Linked DNA regions of Homo sapiens: region 2 is linked to region 1. The links come from fine-mapping of genetic effects on gene expression. Tissue or cell type: prefrontal cortex. Region 1 holds a variant in brackets; the other region holds the start of a gene. All regions are shown on one strand. Distances are from middle to middle.

Region 1 (8,183 bases):
TGTTTTAATAGCACTATTTCCAGATTATCCTATTTAAAATTTATTTGTTGGTTTCCTACTACGGCAGGTAAGAATTTGACTATCTTAAACCATTGTCCTCTTCTCCTTCAGCTTCCTCCTTCTCCTCTCCTAGATAATTAAAAATTCCTTCTTGGGCTGGGTGCCATGGCTCATGCCTGTAATCCCAGCACTTTGAGAGGCCAAGGCGGGTGGATCACCTGAGGTCAGGAGTTTGAGACCAGCCTGGCCAAAATGGTGAAACTCTGTCTCTACTAAAAATACAAAAATTAGCTGAGCGTGATGGCATGTGCCTGTAATCCCAGCTATGTGGGAGGCTGAGGCAGGAGAATCACTTGAACCCAGGAGGCAAAGGTTGCAGCAAGCTGAGATCATGCCACTGCACTGCAGCCTAGGCGACTAGAGAGAGACTCCATCTCAAAAAAAAAAAAAAAATCCTTCTCAGTGCCAACTGTCTTTTGTAACTGTGTCTATGATTATACCTATTAGTTTGTGCTCTATTTATTTTCTCATGTGCCTGTTTTGTCTAACAGACTGCGCTATTCTCAGCTTTGCACCCAGTGTATAAATCAGTGCCTAGTCCTTAGTAGGAACTCAGGTTTGCTGAACAGAATTAAATTACAGTAATCTGTGAGCACAAAACTTTATGTGGTGTCATCTGTAGACAATCATCAATGTTCATGGACACTACCAGGGTTAGTGTGGCAACAATAACTCAGAAATCCAGAAACTACTTGTTACAAAAAATAGATTTATGGACAAAAACAGAAACTGTCAAATTTAACGTATCAGAATATCTCCCAGCATTCAATTCCCAGAAGTTTTACTTTAAGCCATTATCCTGAGCTAAGCTGTTAGGCCTAACAACATACTAAAATGTAATATTTATAGCTTCCCCCTGGAACTATTAGAACAGTTTAAAAAAGAAATCACTCAGTTATCTGAAAATAAATTTCAGAAACTCAAATATGAACTTTTACCTACTTTAATACAGGAAATAAACCAAGGCAGGTATTTCCAAAGACTATACAGGTAGCAAACCTAGGGACATACCAGCAGATACTTTTGAGTGACTTTAAAGTTTGTGTAGATAGGAAGATGGCAAATACTTAGCACCTAGGCCACTGCTTCCCCTTCTCAGTCAAGGATAACTGAGCCCTCCTCTTGAGCCTTGTTCCTTGCAACAGTCAAGAGCCCTCAAAATGCCATTTGGAGATACAAACAATGAGATGGCATTTTTAGAACTGGAATTTATTATATCTTTATTAATTTTATATCCTTTGAGACACACAGTAAGATGCTTAACAAATGCTTGCTGATTGAGCAGAAGTGAACTCTCCGGTAAGCAAAATCTGACATTGGTTTCTCTGCTTAAGAGAATCACTATTACACTTTCCATGTGTCTAACGATGTTTTTAAACTTTTTATTTTGAAATAATTTCAGACTCAAAGAAAAGTTGTAAAAATAGTATAAAAATTCTCATATGCTTCACCCAGATTCCCCAAATGTTAATATTTCTCACATTTGCTTTACTTTGTCATTCTCTCTATCCATATCTATTTTTTCTGTCATTTTTTTCACTCAAATTTTGAGAATAAGTTAAATGAAAAGGTTAGACAAAAAGATCTAGGTAGTCCTTCCATTTCTCAGATTCAATGACTAAGTAAAAAATAAACAGCAATTATCAGTGAGAATTATGTTTAACCATTGTCCAATTAAAATTAAAACCCTAGGAATTTTTGTATTTGGGGGCATAATATTTCCAACAAAACTATATTAGAAAATAAGAGGTATTTTTGGAATAACAATGGCACTTTGCTAGACCTTAAGAAGACCTAAAAGTGAAAAAGACATGGTAAACCCCCAAAGAGTCAAGGAGGTGGGGAGAGAATTCTTTATTTCCAATGCTTATTTCCAGTTACTTACCAAATTATAATATTTTCAAGATCATATTATATCCACATTCATCTATTGATAATAACCCAGTAAATTAGCTTTGTCTGTTATTATTTTAGTTCTATGTGTATAGGTTAATTTTTCATATCTGGGCTAAGTCTAGACTGGGCTAAGGGATGCCCAGATAGCTGGTAAAACATTATTTCTAAGTGTGTCTGTGTGTGTGTTTCTGGAAGAAAATAGCATCTGAATTGATGAATTGAGTAAAGTGGACACTCCCTTCCCCCGCAATGTGGGAAGGCAACATTTAATCCATTGAGGGCCCAAGGAGAACAAAAAGGTAGAGGAAGGGCAAATTTACTCTCTCTGCTTGAGCTGGGCCATACATCTTCTCCTCCCCTTCAACATCAGTGCTCCTGGTTCCTGGGCTTTCAGACTGAGACTGGGACTTACACAGTTAGTACCCCAATTCTCAAGGCCTTTTGACTTGGACCAGGACTTACACCATCAGCTCCCCAGTTCTTCGGCTTTCAGACTTAGACTAGAACTGACAACGTTGGCTCCCTTGGTTCTCAGTCCTTCAGGCTTGGACCGGAACGACACCACTGGCTTTCCCAGGCCTCCAGCTTACAGACAGCAGACTGTGGGACTTCTCAGCAGCCATAATCACATGAGCCAATTTCTCATAATAAATCTCTTTCTACATATCTTTATACAGATGATCCTTGACTTACAACGGGGTTACATTGTGATAAACCCATTGTAAGTCGAAAATGCATTTAATACACCTAACCTACTGAACATCATAGCTTAACCTAGCATACCTTAAATGTGCTGAGAACATTTACATTAAACTACAGTTGGGCAATCATCTAACACAAAGCCTATTCTATAATAAAGTGTTTAATACTGCACACAGATGGGCATTTTGTAGAGATGATGGGATGTGAAAACAAAAAACACAATATCCAAAAAGTACTGGCAACACAGTACACTGTGGAGTATTGGTTGTTTACCCTCATGATCATGTGGCTGACTGGGAGCTGCAGCTCACTGCCACTGCCCAGTATCTCCAGAGAGTAGTGTACCGCATATCACTAGCCTGGGAAAAGATCAAAATTCAAGATTCAAATTGTGGTATCTACTGAACGTCTATTACTTTCACACCATCATAAAGTCAAAAAATCATGAAGTTAACTACCTTAAGTCAGGGACCATCTATATGTCCTATTGATTCTGTTTCTCTGGAGAACCCTGACTTATTATGGTAACATAAAAAATTTCTTTCATGTATACTTTTTCTAAATATCTGAAATTAGGCATATCTTCCAATTAGAGAATAGAAATTTTACCTTATTTGTAAGGATGATTCACCTGATTCTTCAACATCATTACAGAAACACAGAATTTGATTCACAATATAGCTAAACCTCAATTAAGACCACTTATTTCATGTCTCCATCCTGAATGACATCAAACTGAAAAGTTTTTTTCTTTTTTTCTTTTGAGACATGGTCTCACTCTGTCACCCAGGTTGGAATGCAGTGGCATGATCTTGGCTCACTGCAACCTCTGCCTCCTGGGTTCAAGTGATTCTCCTGCCTCAGCCTCCCAAGTAGCTGAGATTAGAGGCACATGTCACCATGCCCAGCTAATTTTTTTTTTAGTAGAGATGAGATTTCACTATGTTGGCCAGGCTGATCTCGAACTCCTGACCTCAAGTGATCCATTCACCTCGGCCTCCCAAAGTGCTGGGATTACAGGCATGAGCCATCATACCCAGCCTGAAAAGTTTTATTAGTTTTTTTTGAAGCAAAGGGGGAAAACCTGCTGGTGTGGAAAATAAAAACTTTTAGGCAGTGAACATTTAATAACAACAGTGAAGCAGAACTAAAAACTTGTTTAAAGTTAATATGTAATTTTCCATTTTCCAACTGGTAGCTCTGAACAGTGACTGATGGCGAAAAACATACAGACTTCTCTAGGGAAGAGCAGGATATGGAGGCAAAGCAATAAAAAACAAGTGATGATAAGAAAAGCAGAAAAGAAGAAGAAAATTATTAGATAGCTGAAGTAGAGATGAAATTATCAATAATTATAAGCAATGATAGAGAAAAGTCCTAGCATAAGAAAAACTAAAGATAGGACACTGTTTCCTTCTACTGGGGAAAAAATGAAACTATTAGCTCAAAAATCCTTAAAGGCAATATTATCATTAGGTGAGTAATTTTGGGGCTGGGGCTGAGGGTGGCAAAGACCTGAACATATATCATTACTGTACCCGAGGGTGTATACCTTAGAGTTACTCTCAGTTATTACAAAAAGTTGACCTAAAAGTTGGTCCCCAATATGTTGAATAACTGATTTTTACTATATTAATTTTATTTTACTTTGTTCTAACTTTTATGTCAAAAA[A/G]GAATTATGTAAATTAAAATCTCTTAAAGCTCAGTTTTAAATTATGGATAAAACACTAGAATATGAAAATCTAGACTATGTAATTTGAGTATTTCAATATCCTTGATTTAAAAGGGAAAAACCTATTTAGTATCTTATTAAATGGTATGCATTTGAAATGTGAGCTTATTAAATTTTTATACCTACCAGATGAAAATGCTTTTGTTGCAATTATTCAAATAGTTATTAAACCAAAATCCTAAATTCTGTGGGCAATTTCTTTTTTGAATTAGTTATTTTTAATTGAAGAATACATGCATATTGTAAAAAACACTCAAATAGTACAATGAAAAGTACGAGTCCCTCCCCAGAGGCACCCACTGTCAACAGTTGAGCTCTAACCACATGGCAGCCACTATGCTGCCTGCTCTTTTTTTGTGGGGCAGGGAAAGGAACAACATTTATCGTTTAGACTTTTGTTTGAAGTGCTGCCTGCCAAATGTCCAATTAAATTATAGCCAGTGCATTATTACATTGATTTTAAGATGTCTCCCAATTTCAGAGACGTTAATATGTGTCAAAACACATATCTCTATCGTGTGGTTTTCAGAGCTTAATTCTGGTATCTATGGTGTGACATTATCTCTATGAAATGAGCTTTGAATACCATTTTTATAATGCTCAAATACAAGAAATATCATTAGAAAATCATCCCAAATCCTCTTAAGCATATTAGACTGAGGGGAACAACTGCAATTTGAAGTAGGGTGGTAAGAGGACATTTGAGCAGGCCTGAAGGCAGTGATGGTGATTTTCATACAGATTTCCAAGGGAAGACTTCTCGTGGAGGAGGAAACAGTCAGTAGGAACATGAAGTAGGAATACGTTTGGGATGTTCAGTAACAGCAAGAAAGCCAGTATAGACACAGGGGAATGACTAAGGAGTAGAAGGAAGAGGTCAAATAAGGCCTTAGATACCACTCTAAGACTTCAGGGGTTTTTAGATGGGAAGCCATGATGGAATTCTGAGCCTAGCACAGACACAATTTGACTTTTAAAAGGAGCACTCTGGATACTATGTTGGAATTCTCCAGCGGACAAAGGTAAAAATAGGATGACACACTAGGAGCTTATGTAGTAATCTAGGAGCAGGGTAGAGGTGATAGTGGCTAGGACCAGGATGAAAAGAAGTGGTCAGGGGATATGTATTTAAATTTAGAAGCAAAAAGATTTCCTGACTGAGTGGATGTGGAATATGAGAGAAAAAGAGGAGCCATGGACGACCCCAAGGCTTCTGATCTAAGTGACAGGAAGGATGGAGGCTGCTATCAATAATGAGATGGTAAAGGCTATGAAGGAGTATATATTTTTAGGAAAATCCACAGTTCAGTTTGAGAGAGTGTTATGGGAAAGGGGTCCTGATCCAGCCCGCAAGAGAGGATTTTTGGATCTCGGGCAAGAATTCAGGGTGAGTCCATAGACTAAAGTGAAAGCAAATCTATAAAGAAAGTAGAGGAATAAAAGAATGGCTACTCCATAGACAGAGCAGCCTTGATGGCTGCTGGCTGCCCATTTTTATGGTTATTTCTTAATTATACGGTAAACAAGGGGTGGATTATTCATGCCTCCCCTTTTAGACCATATAAGGTAACTTCCTGACATTTCCATGGCATTTGTAAACTGTCATGGTGCTGGCAGGAGTGTAGCAGTGAGGAAAACCAGAGGTCACTCCTGTTCCCATCTTGATTTTGGTGGGTTTTAGCCAGCTTCTTTACTGCAGCCTGTTTTATCAGGAAGGTCTCTATGACCTGTATCTTGTGCCATAACCTCTTATCCTATGACTTAGAATGCCTTAACCACCTGGGAATGCAGCCCAGTAGGTCTCAGCCTTATTCTACCCAGCCCCTACTCAAGATGGAGTTGCTCTGGTTCAAATGCCTCTGACAAGAGGACTATTAGACATACTAGTGAAGGAGTCAAACACTCAGAAATAAAAATCTGTTAAGTATATTCCTTTGAAGAATACATGATATTTTTAATGCTCTCATAACAAAAAATAATACACAATATTTTATTTAGTCATCCCTCTACTAATGGACATTTAGATTATTTCTAATTTGTTACTCTTACAAAATATCTTGCAGTAATATCCTGTCTTTCTCTAGGATATATAGCCCCAAGTAGAACTGCTATGTCATAGATAATTTAAAATATTGCTAAACTGCTCTTCAGATTGGCTGCATCGATTTGTGTGTGTTAATTTCCCTAAAAGCTCACCAATATTTGATATTGATGAGTAAAAAATAGTATTTTGCCCTGTTTTGCATTTCCCTGATCTTTTCATATATTTTTATTTCTATAAACAATGAAAAGTCTTTGTGTCTTTTGTACATTTTTCTTCTGGGTTTTAAATACTATTATTGATTTGTAAAAACCATTGAGCTGTTTACATACATAGTCATGTGCCACATGACATTTCAGTCAACGACGGACTGCATATATGACAATGGTTCCCGTAGATTATAATGGAGCTGAAAAATTCCTGTTGCCTAGTGATGTCATAGTCATTGTAATGCCATAGCACAATTACTTTATTTTTAAAATAAATTTAGTGTAGCCTATGTGTACAGTGTTTATAAAGTCTACAGTAGTATAGGGTAATATCCTAGGCCTTCACATTCACTCATCACTCACTGACTCACTCAGAGCAACTCCCAGTCCTACTAGCTCCATATATAGTAGGCGTATCATTTTAAGACTCTTTTATACTGCCCAGGCACCGTGGCTCACACCTGTAACCCTAGCACTTTGGGAGGCCAAGGTGGGTGGATCACTTGACCCCAGGAGTTCAAGATCAGCTTGGACAACATGGTAAAGCCCCATCTCTACTAAAAATACAAAAATTACCTGAGCATGGTGGCACATGCCTATAATCCCAGCTACCCGAGAGGCTGAGGTGGGAGAATCACTTGAGCCCAGGAGGTGGAGGTTGCAGTAAGCTAAGATTGCGCCACTGCACTCCAGCCTGAGCAACAGAGAGAGAGACACTATCTCAAAAAAAAAAAAAAAACAACTTTTATACGGTATTTTTACTGTACCTTTTCTATGTTTAGATACACAAATACTTACCATTGTGGTCCAATTGCCTACAGTCTTCACTACAGTGATATGATGTACAGGTCTGCAGCCTAGAAGCAAAAGGCTATGCCATATAGCCTAGGTGTGTAGTAGGTTATACCATCTAGGTTTGTCTAAGTACACCCTATGATGTTCGTACAATGATGAAATCACCTAATTTCACATTTCTCAGAAGGTATCCCTGTCATTAAGTGACACATGACTGTATACTCAATACTTATTTTTGTTATGTGCACTTCAAACACTTTATTGTGTCTCTTGAACACTCTAGTTTTTAGATTTTTTTTTTAATTGGACATTTTATTTTTATTCACTTATTTTTATTATTATTATTTTTTTGAGACAGAGTCTCACTCTGTCACCCAGGCTGGAGTGCAGTGGCGCTATTTCAGCTCACTGCATCCTCCGCCTCCTGGGTTCAAGCAATTCTCATGACTCAGCCTCCCGAGTAGCTGGGATTACAGGCGCTCACCACCATACCAGCTAATTTTTTGTAGTTTTAGTACAGATGGGGTTACCACATTGGCCAGGCTGGTCTCAAACTCCTGACCTCAAGGGATCTGCCTGCCTCAGGCCTCCCAAAGTGCTGGGATTACAGGCGTGAGCGACCGTGCTGCCCAGCCTAGTTTTTAGTTTTGATGTACTCATATTTATCTTTTCCTTAATGACTTATGACTTCTGATTTCTGGGTCTTGTAAGGAAGGGGTACCCTACTTGAAGACATTAAGAGTCTCCT
Region 2 (8,183 bases), 92 kb before region 1:
ATTAAATTACTCCTGAGATAAAAACAGAACCTCAAAGTTTTTAGCTTATACTTTATCTTGAAATTTATAATGGAAAAAAGGCAATGATCTTGTTCCAATACACTCCATCATACATAATTCATTCACTCATTTTCCATTCACAAATGAAAGTGCTTAGTATAGACTAGGCACTGACAATACAGAGGTGAATATGAGAGACTTCTACTCTCAAGGCAAATTAAGAAACACCATTTTAAAAGAACTAGAGGAAATTTAAGAATAGTCAAAATATGTATCTAGTCCACATTTAAATGGATATAGACATAAATAGCTAATTGAATTATCCATTTATATTTTGTCTTAGTCCACTCCATAAATCACAGTAGTAACTAATATTATCCTTACCTATTTTATTGTTTGCCTTTCTTCCACATCTACAGTAACAACAGCCTACCAGAGCTCCTATTCTCAACAGAGGGAATAGAAGCAATCTCTAGTGGCTGGTTAGTGTTTTAAAGTCCAACTGGTGAGTCTGATGCCACTTTTTGACAATCAGTGCCTTAGGAAAGCTGAACCACTCTAATTACAAGGGCAGGAGGGAAAAGGAACAAAAGAATAGGTTTCAAATTTCCCAAGAACCACTTCTGGATAATTGTCCTTTATGTTAAAAACATTCTATTTGGAATTTGATACAGTGAGAAAATGGTACTGTTCTGGCTATTTTTAGTCAAAACCAAAATCATTAATTTACAAAGTTTTATACTATAGTAAGATCTGTTAACATAATTTATAAATATTTGGAAAATCCTAGAAAGGTGAACTACTAAAATACTAACAAATATTTCTTCATCTTTATCTGTTCAGATGTTATATACTAACACATTAGTGCTATCACAATTGACTTAAACTTTTTAAAAGCCATCAGACAATATCTAATAACAGCCATAAACATTTACCCCAGCAATTTCATTTTATGAGCTACACTCCAAGGAAATAACCAAAAAGGAAGAAAGAATAATTCATACAAAGATATGCAGAGCAGTACTTCTAAGAATGGTGAAACATGTTGGAAACAAAATATCCAGCAATAGAGGTAATTGGTGAGTGGACTCAGCAAGATATTTCAGGGATAGGCAACAAAAAAATAAAATGTACAAAAAGTTAACATTGTAAAAACATGCTATCTGAAGTGAGCAAACTTCCTGAGCTCTGATTCTGCATACACAAGAATCATTTACAGAGCCTCTTAAATGCAAAGTCTAAAATAAAAAGTAAAATATTAAAAAAAAAAAAAAACAGAGTTCAAGAACCCACCCAGAGATCGAAATTCACTCGATGGATTTGGGTTTGGGTTTGGGACCCAGAACTCTGCATTTTAAACAAACACTCCAAGTGAGTCTGATGCAGATAACTAGGACCTACACATTGGGAAACAACTCTTGAGGGCAAGGACAAAATCCATTTCATTTTTGTAATCCTTGAGTTTAATGCATCATAGTCATTCCATAAAAGCTTGAACTGAATATGCTTTAATTTGCATGAATGCTCAAAAAATTGAACCCAGTGAGAGATGACAAACGGCGCAAACCTTAGACTAGGAATCTGTCTTCATCATACTTACATTAATGCACATAACTCATGCAGCAAACAAAAACTGATATAGACTTTATTGGTCTGGTGGTCCATGTGGAAAAATATAACAGTATTTTCAATTCTTGGCTACTAGATATTACTAAACAAACAGAAAACTCAATTTCCCTGCTTCAGAATGCTTAACATTAAAAGATGTTTTGGCTGGGCATGGTGGCTCACGCCTGTAATCCCAACACTTTGGGAGACTGAGGTGAGCAGATCGCTTGAGGTCAGGAGTTCGAGACCAGCCTGGTCAACATGATGAAACCCTGTCTCTACTAAACATACAAAAATTAGCCAGGCATAGTGACATGCACCTGTAGTCCCAGCTACTCTACTTAGGAGGCTGATGCAGGAGAATCCTTTGAACCTGGGAGGCAGAGATTGCAGTGAGCCCAGATCGCACCACTGCACTCCAGCCTGGGCAACAGAGCGAGACTCTGTCTCAAAAACAAACAAACAAGAAAACAAAAATAAAAGATGTTTTAAAAAGTAGCTAAATTCTGAAATACTTACAGGAGACATGTAATAAGGTGTGCCAACAAATGTTTTTGCAAAACTCGTGTCATGGTTTAATATTCTAGCTAGCCCAAAGTCTCCAAGCTTGACGTTTTGCTTGCCATCCAGGAAAACATTGGCTGGTTTCAGATCCCGATGCAATACGGTATGACCACCATCACTTCGTCTGTGGCATTCCTTCAGGGCCAGAGTCAACTGAGTCATCACTCGAAGAACAAACTCTTCATCTAAGTATTGCCTAAAACCAAAGCAGTTATACAGCATATAACTTCTAAAAAAATCATTGCCAAGATGGGATGATATAAATTATCCAGTGTACAAATAGGGAATTTATTTATTTATTTATTTATATTTTTTGAGACAGGGTCTTACTCTGTCACCCAGGCTGGAATGCAGTGGCACGATCATGGCTCACTGCAGCCTCGACCTCCCAGGCTCAAGCAATCCTCTTGCCTTAGCCTCCCAAGTAGCTTGGACTACAGGCACATGTCACTATACCTGGCTAATTTTTGTAGAAACAGGGTCCCACTATGTTGCCCAGGCTGGTCTTGAAATCCTGGGCTCAAGTGATCCTCCCGCATCGGCCTCCCAAAGTGTTGGGATTACAGGTGTGAGCCACCACACTCAGCCTATAAATTGTTATTTTGATATAAAATATGGGTGTTGATTCACCAGGAATTTTCTAAAGTACTGTGGACCTACCAAACAAATACAAATACACTCTTCCATATTACTGATCCTAAAACAAGATGCTTAAAATAAATGAAACTAGACCAATTTCAGCTTACATTTTTAAAAGATTATGCTTACCTTTCCTTGGTTCCCTTTGTAATTACACTAGCCAGATCCCCTCCTTCACAATATTCCATTACAATGTACAGTGTTGTATTGGTCCGGTCAATAATCCGATCATAGTAACGAACGATGTTTGGATGTTTCAGTTCACGAAGCAAATTCACTTCAGAAACAAGCATCTGTTTCTCAGCTTCTGTCATGGAGCCATAGTCAAGTTCTTTCCAAACTAATATCTGAAATAAGAATTTCCAAGGTATGAATGAACTCATTATGCTCAAAAACAAAGAATGAAAGTTCCAAGATTTAACAAATTACCTCCCTTTTAATTATATCCTACAATCAAGGTCATTATCTAATTTAGTTCAATGAACTTAAGGAGCTGTGAGTTTACTTCCATAATCTTCCTCCAGTTCTAAGCAGTAAATGTATGTTGTGGGGAGACAAACGGGAATGAGGCACATGAGGACTCCCCCAACCCCTACCCTCAGTTGGTTAGTGGGAAGTTGGCTAAAAGGTACTATAGTCAAAATTGGGGTGAAGGTGGTCAAAGTCCCTGCCCCATTCCACCCCAGTCGTGTTTTCCCAGGATGAGACACCTTGGTAAAGATCCCTCCATCAGCAGCCAGGCAGTTTCCTGTCCAATGTTACTTTCTGTAAAAGTTCTACCTATATACATTGGGAAATATGAATCCAATAATCCTAATAATGGATATTTTGAGGGAGTCTGACTGCAGATACAAAGCTTCGGGTTCTGGTAGTCCTGCCCCTTTCTTGTGCCTGAGAGGGCCACTCTTAGAGCTCTAAAAACAGCTCAGGAATTAGTTACCTGTCACCAATGGAAGGTCCTTAGCAAGCCAAAGCAGGAGAAAGAGAGAAATGGGGAGAGAAACGGGAAAAGATGGAAATACATATATCAAAAGAAGCGGTCTCCCATCCTTTAAGCCACCCAGGACAGGCTGTCAGATGCAGACCCAGGAAAGACGGTTTAGTCTTCCGGGCACCCATTTCCTCAGCCCTGTCGGTTCCCTTCGGTGGCGCAGGGCGCTCGCCCCGAGGCGACGAAACCTAAGCAGGGGCAGGCGCAGGGTAGGTCCCACGCTCACCTTGCCATCACTCTTCCTCCGGATCTTCTGGCAGCGGCCGTAGGAGCCTGTGCCAATGGTGTACAACACTTCATAGTCCTCAGCCCGGGAAGGCATGGCCGGCCAGTCGCCAGAGTCGCGCTGCCTCACGCAGGTTGCGCCGCCAAGTGCGGAGCTCCAGGGACCAGGAACTCCAGGGACCTGGATGGAGAAGCCCCCGAGCAGCACTGACCCGCCACCCCTGCCTTGGGCCCCGTTTAACCGTCGCGGGCCCTGATCTCGCAGTCTATTGGCAGGCGGTGGGCCGCTTCGCCTCTCTCATTGGCTAAGAAGAACACAACAATACCCTAGGCATTTTGGGAAAAGTGTCACTAGGCAACCGCGTCGGCGTCTGCTTTTAACCTGTGGGAGAACCCGGCGAGCTAAGCCAAACGGAGGGCGGGAGAGAGGAAGCGGCAGCTGGCGCCTCTCGGCAACTCTAACCCTCTGATAGAGATCGCCAAGGTAACCGAGATCTAAGGTCCTCCCCTCAGGCTTCTTTGCACACCGCTTCCACCAGATGCCTTCTGACCTTTGCACTCTGGCCCCTCACACTACCTACTCTCCCCGGCACACGCATTCCTCGCTCAGGTTCCAGTACCCTGAACCTGGGTGGGGTCACGTTGAGGATATGCTGAGAGCTGAATACAAATTAGAAATACAGACTCCCGGGTGGGCGCGGTGACTCACGCTCGCCCGTAACCCTAGCACTTTGGGAAGCCGAGGTGGGTGGGTCGCTTGAGCCCAGGAGTTCAGACCAGCCTGGGCAACAGGGCAAACCTCGTCTCTACTGAAAATACGAAAATTAGGCCGGGCGCTGTGGCTCACGCCTATAATCCTAGCACTTTGGGAGGCCGAGGCGGGCGGATTGCTCGAGGCCAAGAGTTCAAGACCAGCCTGGCCAACATGGCGAAACCCCGTCTCTACTAAAAATGAAAAAAAAAAAAAAAAAAGTAACAGAGCATGGGGTTGCAGGCCTGTAATCCCAGCTTCTTGGGAGGCTGAGGCATGAGGAATTGCTTGAACCTGGGAGGCAGAGGTTACAGTGAGCCGTGCGCCACTGCACTCCAGCCTGGGCGACAGAGTGACACCCAGTCTCCAAAAAAAAAAAAAAAAGGAGAAATACTGTCGCTCTCCTACCAAGTACTTTACACGTCTTGTCCCGTTTATGTGTGCCAAATACACAATTAACCCTATCGACAATACTTCATTGAACACAGATTCTCTTTTACGCACCCACACACCAACGTTCTCAGCTTACCCAGCCAAATGAACAGCCCCATGTTTACCAGGGAAGGAGGACTTAGAGGCCTCCATCCAGGGCTTGTTAGAGGAATATGTAAATTACCAGAAAGCTAATAATTTGGAAATGCATGAACAGGCCAGTTTTCTTTAAATATCTGTTCAGCAAAGGATTAAAAGACACCTGATTTTCTATTAATAAGAATTTAAAAGCTCTTTATGTAAAAATAAGGGACTTATTACATGCCCTGAATATAACATAAGATAATTGGAATTGCCAACCAGGAGAATTTTTAAATTAACATTCAAGGGCACTGTCTTACCTCAGGGGAATAGGACCAATTTAGGTTTCAAAAGTTATGTAAGGCACTGCAAGTGGCTGTGTTAATTAGCATCATTTTTTTATTTTTGTGCCTCTTACAGATTGGTATCCATAGAGCTTGCTGTGGTTTGAATGTATCCCCCAAAGTTCATGTGTTGGAAACTATTCTTAATGCAAAAGTGTTAAGAGGTGAGACCTTTAAATTGATTGGGTTATGAGGGCTACCCCTCACGAATGGATTAACGTAATCACAGGAGTGGGTTATCTTGAGAGTCGGTTGGTTATAAAAATGAGTTTGGCTTTCCCTTGCTGTTTCTCTTACCATGTGATGCCTTCTGCTATTTTATGACCCAGAGAAAAGGCTGCTGCCAGATGCTACCCCTTGATCTTGGACTTCCTAGCTTCCAGAACCGTGAGCCAAATAAACTATTGTTTATAAATTGTCCAGTCTGTGGCATCCTATTATAGCAACATGAAACTGTATAAGACAGAGCCCTGGCCGGGCACGGTGGCTCACACCTGTAATCCCAGCACGTTGGGAGGTCAAGGCGGGTGGATTACGAGGTCAGGAGTTCAAGATCAGCCCGGCCAACATGGTGAACCCCGTCTCTACTAAAAATACAAAAATTAGACACAATGGCAGGCACCTGTAATCCCAGCTACTCGGGAGGCTGAGGCAGAAGAATCGCTTGAACCCAGGTGGCAGAGGTTGCAGTGAGTGGAGATCACACCACTGCACTCCAGCCTAGGCGACAGAGTGAGACTCCGTCTCAAGAAAAAAAAAAAAAAAAAAATGAGCCGTTTGGTTATCCTGCCCCAAATCCAGTCCTGCACCTTCTCTCTGGCCACTTCTGCTTTTGCTCTAAACGCACACTTTCTCAGTTCCTCACCACCACCACCATCTTTGCACCTGTGATTGCATTTGTCCAGAATACTGTCCAACCCACTCCCTTATCCACTCCAGTCATGTCTGCCCAGAGGACATAACGTGTCCTTCAAGATTCAATTCCAACTTTTTCTCCTGTAATCTGAGAAGCCTCTCTGGCGTACTTGGACAGTCAATCCTCCATCTACAGTGTTCATAGACCACTTTATACATAAATCAAAACTTATCATTATTTGTTTACATGGCTCTCACAGTAGCTGAACTCCGAACTGCTTATAGCCAGCATAAGTCCTGTAATAGAGAAGGCATGCAATAAAGCTTCGTTAAATAAAAATCTGCGAAAGCCCCTTATTAATAATTATGCAAGGATTTTGAGTGGGCCCTCAAGTACTCAATTGCCAAATGCCCCAGCTCTAGGCAGAGACGAAATATCTGGAAAGGAGCCATCCCAAGAGTATGGAATGTGGCTCCTACGCACATATGCTCATTTAACAAGTATTTATTGAGCACTTGCTATGGCCCAGGTATGATAGGTATTGACATGCTGGCTTTTCATTTAAAAAAAGACAGTGGAGCCCCAAAGACAATAATAAAGAGTAGCACAGGAGGCTGGGTGTGGTGTCTCATGCCTGTAATCCCAGCCTTTTGGGAGGCCGAGGCAGGCGGATCACCTGAGGTCAGGAGTTCAAGACCAGCGTGGCCAATAAGGTGAAACCCCGCCTCTACTAAAAATACAAAAATTAGCTGGGTGTGGCCAGTATGGTGAAACCCTGCCTTTACTAAAAATACAAAAATAGCTGGGTGTGGTGGCACGTCTGTAGTCCCAGCTACTTGGGTGGCTGAGGCAGGAGAATCGCTTGAACTTGGGAGGCAGAGGTTGCAGTGAGCCAAGATTGCACTACCACACTCCAGCCTGCTCAACAGACCGAGACCCTGTCTCAAAAAAAAAAAAAAAAAAAAAAAAAAAAAAAAAGTCCGGGCACGGTGGCTCAAGCCTGTAATCCCAGCACTTTGGGAGGCCAAGGTGGGCGGATCATGAGGTCAGGAGATCGAGACCATCCTGGCTAACATGGTGAAACCCAGCCTCTACTAAAAATACAAAAAAATTAGCTGGGTGTGGTGGCAGGCGCCTGCAGTCCCAGTTACTGGGGAGGCTGAGGCAGGAGAATGGCGTGAACCCGGGAGGCGGAGCTTGCAGTGAGCCGAGATCGCGCCACTGCACTCCAGCCTGGGCGACAGAGCAAGACTCCGTCTCAAAAAAAAGAAAAAAAAAAAGGGTAGCATAGGAATCACTCACATGACAAACCCTAAAGGTTGGCCAGAGTTAGCCCGCATCATGAGTGAGGGCAGGACAGCCCAGCAGAGACCACTAGACACCAGAATAGAAAGAGACACTGGGAGATGAGAAGCATGTGGGAGTCAAACAGGGACAGGTTACAGGGAACATCCTTTCCCCTATAACTTCTTTCCTTTTTCCTTCATATTCCATCCATTCTTTAAGTCTCAGCTCATGCCCAATTTCTTCTCTGAAATTTTTCCTGATTGACTTCAACCCACTATGATCTATCTTCTAATTACTCTTAAGAGTAATCAACTGTGTTTTTACTCATTTAGAATTATACTAGGCCATATTACTAGCTTCTCATGTGCATGTATCTTCTCTGCCTTATTAAATGGAAAATTCATC

Direction of the effects. Alleles are on the strand shown, and positions count from the first base shown. SD is a standard deviation of normalised expression in the study named.
With allele A in place of G in region 1, the expression in prefrontal cortex of the gene that starts at base 4,266 in region 2 is lower (large effect, 1.4 SD a copy in CommonMind).

Evidence for each region. PIP is the estimated chance that this variant, and not a neighbour inherited with it, causes the effect.
Region 2: NEK2 starts here. The variant in region 1 is fine-mapped to the expression of NEK2 in prefrontal cortex (CommonMind, PIP 0.95).

Annotation. Positions count from the first base shown.
Region 1 is chr1:211,763,736-211,771,918 of GRCh38, forward strand. All of the region lies in intron 6 of LPGAT1 (lysophosphatidylglycerol acyltransferase 1), which reads right to left. Among named protein-coding and RNA genes, the nearest start is that of LPGAT1, 63 kb to the right of the region's middle. RefSeq lists an enhancer at 1,828-1,997. The variant A/G (reference allele first, on the strand shown) is at 4,331.
Region 2 is chr1:211,671,356-211,679,538 of GRCh38, forward strand. It overlaps NEK2 (NIMA related kinase 2), which reads right to left and starts at 4,266. Exons shown (of 8, transcript NM_002497.4): 1 at 4,029-4,266; 2 at 2,941-3,158; 3 at 2,128-2,368. The coding sequence starts at 4,124. It overlaps NEK2-DT (NEK2 divergent transcript), which reads left to right and starts at 4,407. Exons shown (of 4, transcript NR_148994.1): 1 at 4,407-4,511; 2 at 5,712-5,799. RefSeq lists enhancers at 3,970-4,229, 4,252-4,546.